Homo sapiens: one gene and its partner. Each later gene encodes a partner of the first gene's protein in a complex. Each region holds a gene or a part of one and is shown in the gene's direction. Other genes may lie near its edges.

Region 1 (3,500 bases):
CATTGGTTTTTGAAAGAGCTAGTTGTTTATGTTTTGCATTTTATTGTTTTAGGTTCGTTACCGTGAACGCATCACCATTCTTCGAGGGAATCATGAGAGCAGACAGATCACACAAGTTTATGGTTTCTATGATGAATGTTTAAGAAAATATGGAAATGCAAATGTTTGGAAATATTTTACAGATCTTTTTGACTATCTTCCTCTCACTGCCTTGGTGGATGGGCAGGTATGTGGATCTAAAACTCATTGCTGATTATTTCAGAGAATCTGCTTTCTTTAGTGTTCAGGTGCTTATGACTCTTTCCACTCTTAACACCCCTTTGGGGATATTTTTTAATAGATATTGATAGCATTCATTCAAACTTAAAAAAAATTTAATTTGACAAATGTGTCCAACTTTTTTAAGTGCATTATTCTTTATATCAGGCACTGAACTGTATGGTGGGATCACAGGGGTGGGTGATGTAGCCCATTTACCCTCTCAGACTGTTTTTGGACAAGTCTGGGAGATGTAAGGAGCTAATTATTGGCCTAGGTAGATGTGCACACAAAAGAACTTACAATAAAATTTTATGAGTATGAAGATACTAGTCTCTGGCAAAGGGCAGGAGTGATATCCAAGAAGTTTTCTCAAAGGAGCTGTTTGAAGTGGAGTCTGGTTGTGACAGCGATGGTCTATTAGGAAGAACAGGAGTGTACTCAATAGTTCAGAGTGGGCTGGAGCAAAGATGAACCCTGCAAAGTCAAGTCTCATTCAGGCAGAGCACAGAAACACCAGAGGGGCCAAGTGATGGGGGTGCCCAGCTCATTTTTTAAAATTTTTGTAGAGACACAGGGTCTTGCTGTGTTGCTCAGGTTGGTCTCAAACTCCTGGCCTCAAGCAGCCCTCCTGCCTCAGCTTCCCAAAGTGCTGGGGTTACAGGCATGAGCCACTGTGCCCAGCCAAGAATGTTTACAAATTTTTTAGGTGAGGTTAACCTTTTAAACCACTCTTTTCAGATCTTCTGTCTACATGGTGGTCTCTCGCCATCTATAGATACACTGGATCATATCAGAGCACTTGATCGCCTACAAGAAGTTCCCCATGAGGTATGACTTTTATTTGATAAAATTCTTTCAGAAAACTTATTAGGGAGTGGAGAAGTTTAATTGTAAGTTCATTAGATGTATTCTCTCATATAATTCTCAAAAACAACTTGAGGTGTGAGCACTCTTGTCTGCCCTGTTGTTCAAAAGAAGCTGACATTAAGAAACCTGCCAAGATCACAACAGCTGTGAAGCTGGGCTTATTAGGACCTGGGTTGTCTGTCTTAGACTCTGAAATTTGCATAATATAGGCAGATTAATTAGGGCATGTTGCTGCTGGGTCCCATGGATGTCAGCTGTGTCTCATAAAGTCTGCTGGAAAATACATCTTATTTGATGCAGATGTTTGACTTCAACTGCACAGTCTATTAGCATTGTCCACAAACATCACTCAAAAAGGGTGGCTTAGGGTGCTGCTTCTGATGAATTACTCAAATAATGTGTTAACCATGTTTGTAAAAGGCATTTTATAACTTGAAGTTATTTTTTAGGGTCCAATGTGTGACTTGCTGTGGTCAGATCCAGATGACCGTGGTGGTTGGGGTATATCTCCTCGAGGAGCTGGTTACACCTTTGGGCAAGATATTTCTGAGACATTTAATCATGCCAATGGCCTCACGTTGGTGTCTAGAGCTCACCAGCTAGTGATGGAGGTATGCTGTGTTCTCTGAAATATGACTTGTTTTTTTAGTAAACTTAAGGAAAGAAGATATTAGGGAGTTTTAAATTAATGACATTTGTGAGAAATTCCATCTATTCCTTCTGATGAGTTTATCATTATAGCCTGAGCCTTTTCAGTAGATGCACACTACTAGAATTAAAAGCTCAAGCTTTTGATTACAATGAATCCATTAACATGTTTTCAGAGAAATCTGAATGACTAGGAAGTACTTGAGATTTAAGAGTGGGAAAGTAAGATATAGGGAGTTGGTGTGCATGTATGATATTTTATGATCCCAATGTTATTTCGTATATTTAATGTATGTATGTAGGAGAGACTGGAAAGAAATACACGAAAATGTTTTAAGTGGTCCTTTGGATGCTAGGATTACAGGTGATTTGAAAGAAGGGAAAGAGGCAAAGGTTCTTGACATGGCACACTGATTAGAATATTTTTAAAATAAGGTCCTAATTAGATTAATACTAGTACAACTCTGTGGTTATCAATAAAATCTGACTTTGCTAAAGGTAAAGAAATTGTGAACAATACTAAACAAAAAGTAACAAAAGTAGCTCATGCATTCAGGTGGATGGACTTTGAGGAAATGAGGCTGGAGATCCTAGAGGCATATTGCATTTGTTCCTGGGCAGTGACCAACTTAACAGGCCTTTACCTGTGACTGACAAAATTGGTAAGGTTCTGGTCTCCAGGATTAAGTATCTACTTCTCTAGGGAATGGCCACTTAAATACTTATTCTTAAATCATGTTTTAAGGCCACTGCAAGAGAAGAGGCTAATGAGACATTGTCATTTACAGCAAGGCAGATACATGAGAAGTATTTCATTCTTTGGTGGTTGCTGCTGTTTGTTAAAGCCTTTTTTTTTTTAAAGTACTAAAAAAAAAACAAGTTTTGTAATTAGGGGGAAAATAAATACATGTGTACCTTACAGGTTGTATAAAGTACAGGAGATTATTAAGTCATCCAGAAAAAAAGCATTAACATTTCTTAAGCCCCTTTGGCAGGGGTGGGAATGAGTAGAGATTTTTTTCTCTCTTGAGTGAAGTAACATTTAGTTGAATTGAGGGAGTAAAGTAAGATTTTTGTCTCCTTTTCCTTGCAGGGATATAACTGGTGCCATGACCGGAATGTAGTAACGATTTTCAGTGCTCCAAACTATTGTTATCGTTGTGGTAACCAAGCTGCAATCATGGAACTTGACGATACTCTAAAATACTCTTTGTAAGTAATTCTACCTGAACATTTTCTTGCATTACTGAATATGTAGGGTTTTGGTTTATTTATTTTGAGAGAGAGGGTGTCACTATATTGCCCAGTCTTGTCTCGAACTCCTAGGCTGAAGTGATCCTTTCACCTTGGCCTCCTAGAGTGTTGGGGTTACAAGTATAAGATACAGTGCCCAGCCTGAATACATAGTTTAAATGTGAGGTTTAAGAGTTTAAGGGGGCCAGGCGCGGTGGCTCATGCCTGTAATCCCAGTACTTTGGAAGGCTCGGGTGGATCACCTGAGATCAGGAGTTCGAGACAAGCCTGACCAACATGGTGAAACCCCTTCTCTACTAAAAATACAAAAATTAGCCCAGCATGGTGGCGCCTGCCTGTAATCCCAGCTACTCAGGAGGCTGAGGCAGGAGAATGGCATGAATCCGGGAGGCAGAGGTTGCAGTGAGCCAAGATCGCGCCACTGCGTTCCAGCCTGGGCAACAGAGCGAGACTTCGTCTCAAAAAAGTGT
Region 2 (3,500 bases), on another chromosome or scaffold:
GAACCAAACTAAAGGATCACATCTTAAAGCTCTTCTGTCTCTGATTCTTCCTTACCTTAGACTCAGGTAAAGCATTGTTAGTAAGGTCATAGGACAGTGGTTTCTTAACTTTTATATAACATGAATTACCAAAATTCCACAGACAGTCCATTTTCTTCAAGCCCTAGATCAATCCAGATCTCCAGAGGATAAGAGGCCTGCATATTTTTTAGAGTTCTACAAGTGATTCTTTCTTCACAGTAGTGCCTGTTAAAGAGAAAAATTACTACACTACACTTTTCTTTTTTGTAATTTCATAGTAGATTCATTAAAATCTTGTCATGGAAAAGACACTAGGATTTGCAAATTACTATTCCAGACCAGCTTTTGAAAACCCTGAAAATGGAAAATTCAGGAGATTCCCCCCTTAAAAATGAAGAAATCAAGTAAGTCTAAGCAAAATATCTCCTACTAACTTAAGGATCTTTAAGCAGCAACATCTATCATGTTACGACTTCTAAAAGTTAGAAACTGCCATTTAATCAGCACTATAACCTCATGAGGTGAGTATTCCTGTTTTACAGGTGAGGAGACAAATTTAGGTAGGTTAAATCATTTTGCCAAGGTCACCTAGCCATAAAGTATTGCAGCTGAGATTTGAACCCAAGTCTGTCTGATTCCAAAGCCTGTAGTCATGTTACCACTCTTGTAACCATTATGTTATACTGTCTTAGCTCTTTTTTATAGAGTGGAATCTGACTTGTAATTCTTCATCTAGTATTGCGTGGCCCACACCACTTGAGTACATTTCAATAAAGTTTTATTGAGCGCCTGTGATGCTGCTGCAAGGCATAGTTTATATATATTGCTAATGTGTCCTTATATTTTTCTTTATAGTTTGTATGTAGTAAGTGGATTTTGGGTATATACAAAATGCTTGTTTGCCAAGTGTAAAAATATGACATAGCTAATACAAGAAAATGTAGTCAAAGAGTTTATGTTCTTTTTTTTTTTTTTTGAGATGGAGTCTCGCTCTACTGTCGCCCAGGCTGGAGTGCAGTGGCACCATCTTGGCTCACTGCAAGCTCTGCCTCCCAGGTTCACGGCATTCTCCTGCCTCAGCCTCCCCAGTAGCTGGGACTACAGGTGCCTGCCACCACGCCCAGCTAATTTTTTTGTATTTTTAGTAGAAATGGGGTTTCACCGTGTTAGCCAGGATGGTCTTGATCTCCTGACCTCGTGATCTGCACACCTTGGCCTCCCAAAGTGCTGGGATTACAGGCGTGAACCACCGCGCCCGGCCGACAGTGATTTTTCATAAAGGTGTTCCCTTTGTTCTGGGATTTTTAGCCTTCATACATTTTTACTGTTAGGCATTTCCTTTTTCAGATGATGGTGATAATAGTTAAAAAAATTTTATTGATAGTATTAAGGGAGTCCACTACCTTGTGTCAGATTCCCTGTTTCTTTTTGAAGCCCTTGAAATGAAGTTTAGGGACCACTGATCTAGAATTCTCTTTATGCTCCTCCACTACCCATTAACCCCACTCTGTAGTCTGCCTTTTCGCTTTCTTCTCTCCTCCCTTCTAAACACTTCGTAGAACACTATGTTTTCTGTTCATGATTGACCTTCAAATTGCCAAATCCTTTGGCCTTATAAACCGTATGTACTTAACCAACACTCTGTTGTTAACAAATCCTTCAAAACTGTTTTCTTTTGCTTCCGCTCTGTTTTTCCTGTCATCCACTTATCACTTTTCTTCATATGTTTTCTTTCTTTTGTTCCCAGTTGTTATTATGTGGGGTTCTGGTTCTATTTTATGTTCTCACTGTATATTCAGAATCAGATTTTTAGCTACCATGTACCATCTTAATAATACCTAGCATTTATTTACTCTTTCCTAATTGTTATTTCAGTGCTTCAGTATTTCAGTATTCATTTAATTCATTCAGTATTCATTTAATTCTCAAAACAACTCAGTGAGGTTGATACAGGTATAATTGGTGTCTTTTTTTTATTTTTTCTGACACTGGCATATCGAGGCCCAAAGGTTAAGTAATCTATGCAACTAGGAGGCAGTAGAACTGGGATTTAAACTTAGACTGCCTGTAGAGGCCATGTTCTTAACCACTACTAGATTTTTGGCGTCCAGATGTCCCTTGTATTTCTAACTTCCGTTTAGTTTTTCTACCTCAAATTCAATACATCCATTCAGTTAATCTCAAGTGCCTGCCTCTTTCCCTTGACAAAACACACTTGCTCATTCTTTATTCCTTGCCACATTAAAGTTAACACTATCCTCCCCATCGCTAGTACTATAGAGGTCATTGAACCTTCCCCCTGCGTATGGCCTGTGAGTTTTATTGATTCCAGCATGATTATTTGGTGATATTTGAGTGCGATTTTGTGCTAGATCCTGGGTGTATAATGATGTATGAGACACAGACTTTGTCCTCAGGGAGCTTATACTCTAGAAATAATTTTTTTTTTTTTCAAGAGAGCGTCCTACTCTGTTGCCGAGGCTGGAGTGCAGTGGTGCCAACATGGCTTACTGTAGCCTCAGGCTCCCGAGCTCAACTGATCCTCCTGCTGCAGCCTCCCGAGTAGGTGGGACTACAGACATGGACTATCACACCAAGCTGTTTTTATTTTTAGTTCAGGTGGGTTCTCAGTTTGTTGCCCAGGCTGGTCTTGAACTCCTGGGCTCAAATGATTCTCCCACCTCATCCTCCCAAAGTCCAAGTATTGGGATTACAGGCATGAGCCATCATGCCTGGCCAATAAAATGTTACAACAAATTAGCAGAATGCTGAGAGAATAAATGGTGATAGGAAACCTGTATATGTAATGGAGTTTCAGATAATACCTAATATTTATTGAGCACTTTCTTTTTTTTTTTTTAGAGACAGTTTTCGCTCTGTCACTCAGGCTGGAGTACAGTGGTGCTATCTCAACTCACTGCAACCTCCACTTCCTGGGTTCAGGCAGTTCTCATGCCTCAGTCTTCTGAGTAGCTGGAATTACAAGCACCCACCAACACGCCCAGCTAATTTTTGTATTTTTTGTAGAGATGGAGTTTCACCATGTTGGCCAGGCTGGTCTTGAACTCCTGACCTCAAGTAATCCGCCTGCCTTGGCCTCCCAAAGTGCTAGGATTACAGGCATGAGCCACTGCGCCTGACCTATTGAACACTTTCTATATGGTTGACATTATTTTTGGTTCTTCAGTACATTTAATTCTCATAAAGTTCCTAAATGTATACTTCTAGATCTGAAGTATCGGGAATACCTAATTGTACAAAGAACATGCCAGTTGGAAGCTACAGCATTTAGCAGAAGTTCTAAAGTAGGAAAGAGCTTCATTTAAACTGTGAACTGGCCAGGTGTGGTGTCTCACGCTTGTAATCCCAGCGCTTTGGGAGGTTGAAATGGGAGGATCACTTGAGCCCAGGAGTTGGAGACCAGCCTGGGCAACAGTGAGACCCTGTATCTAAAAAAGAAAAAAAAAAAAAAGAAAATG

What was found. The genes of interacting proteins can lie anywhere in the genome.
Region 2: PPP2CA (region 1) and STRN3 share a complex: the UniProt entries of both Homo sapiens proteins name them as parts of the core of STRIPAK complex.

Annotation. Positions count from the first base shown.
Region 1 is NC_000005.10:134,198,574-134,202,073, reverse strand, and holds part of PPP2CA (serine/threonine-protein phosphatase 2A catalytic subunit alpha isoform), read left to right. Parts: intron 1-52; coding exon 53-226; intron 227-999; coding exon 1,000-1,089; intron 1,090-1,566; exon of another isoform or gene 1,567-1,577; coding exon 1,578-1,739; intron 1,740-2,869; coding exon 2,870-2,988; intron 2,989-3,500. UniProt on the Homo sapiens protein: Catalytic subunit of protein phosphatase 2A (PP2A), a serine/threonine phosphatase involved in the regulation of a wide variety of enzymes, signal transduction pathways, and cellular events.
Region 2 is NC_000014.9:31,019,880-31,023,379, reverse strand, and holds part of STRN3 (striatin-3), read left to right. Parts: intron 1-3,500. UniProt on the Homo sapiens protein: Calmodulin-binding scaffolding protein which is the center of the striatin-interacting phosphatase and kinase (STRIPAK) complexes.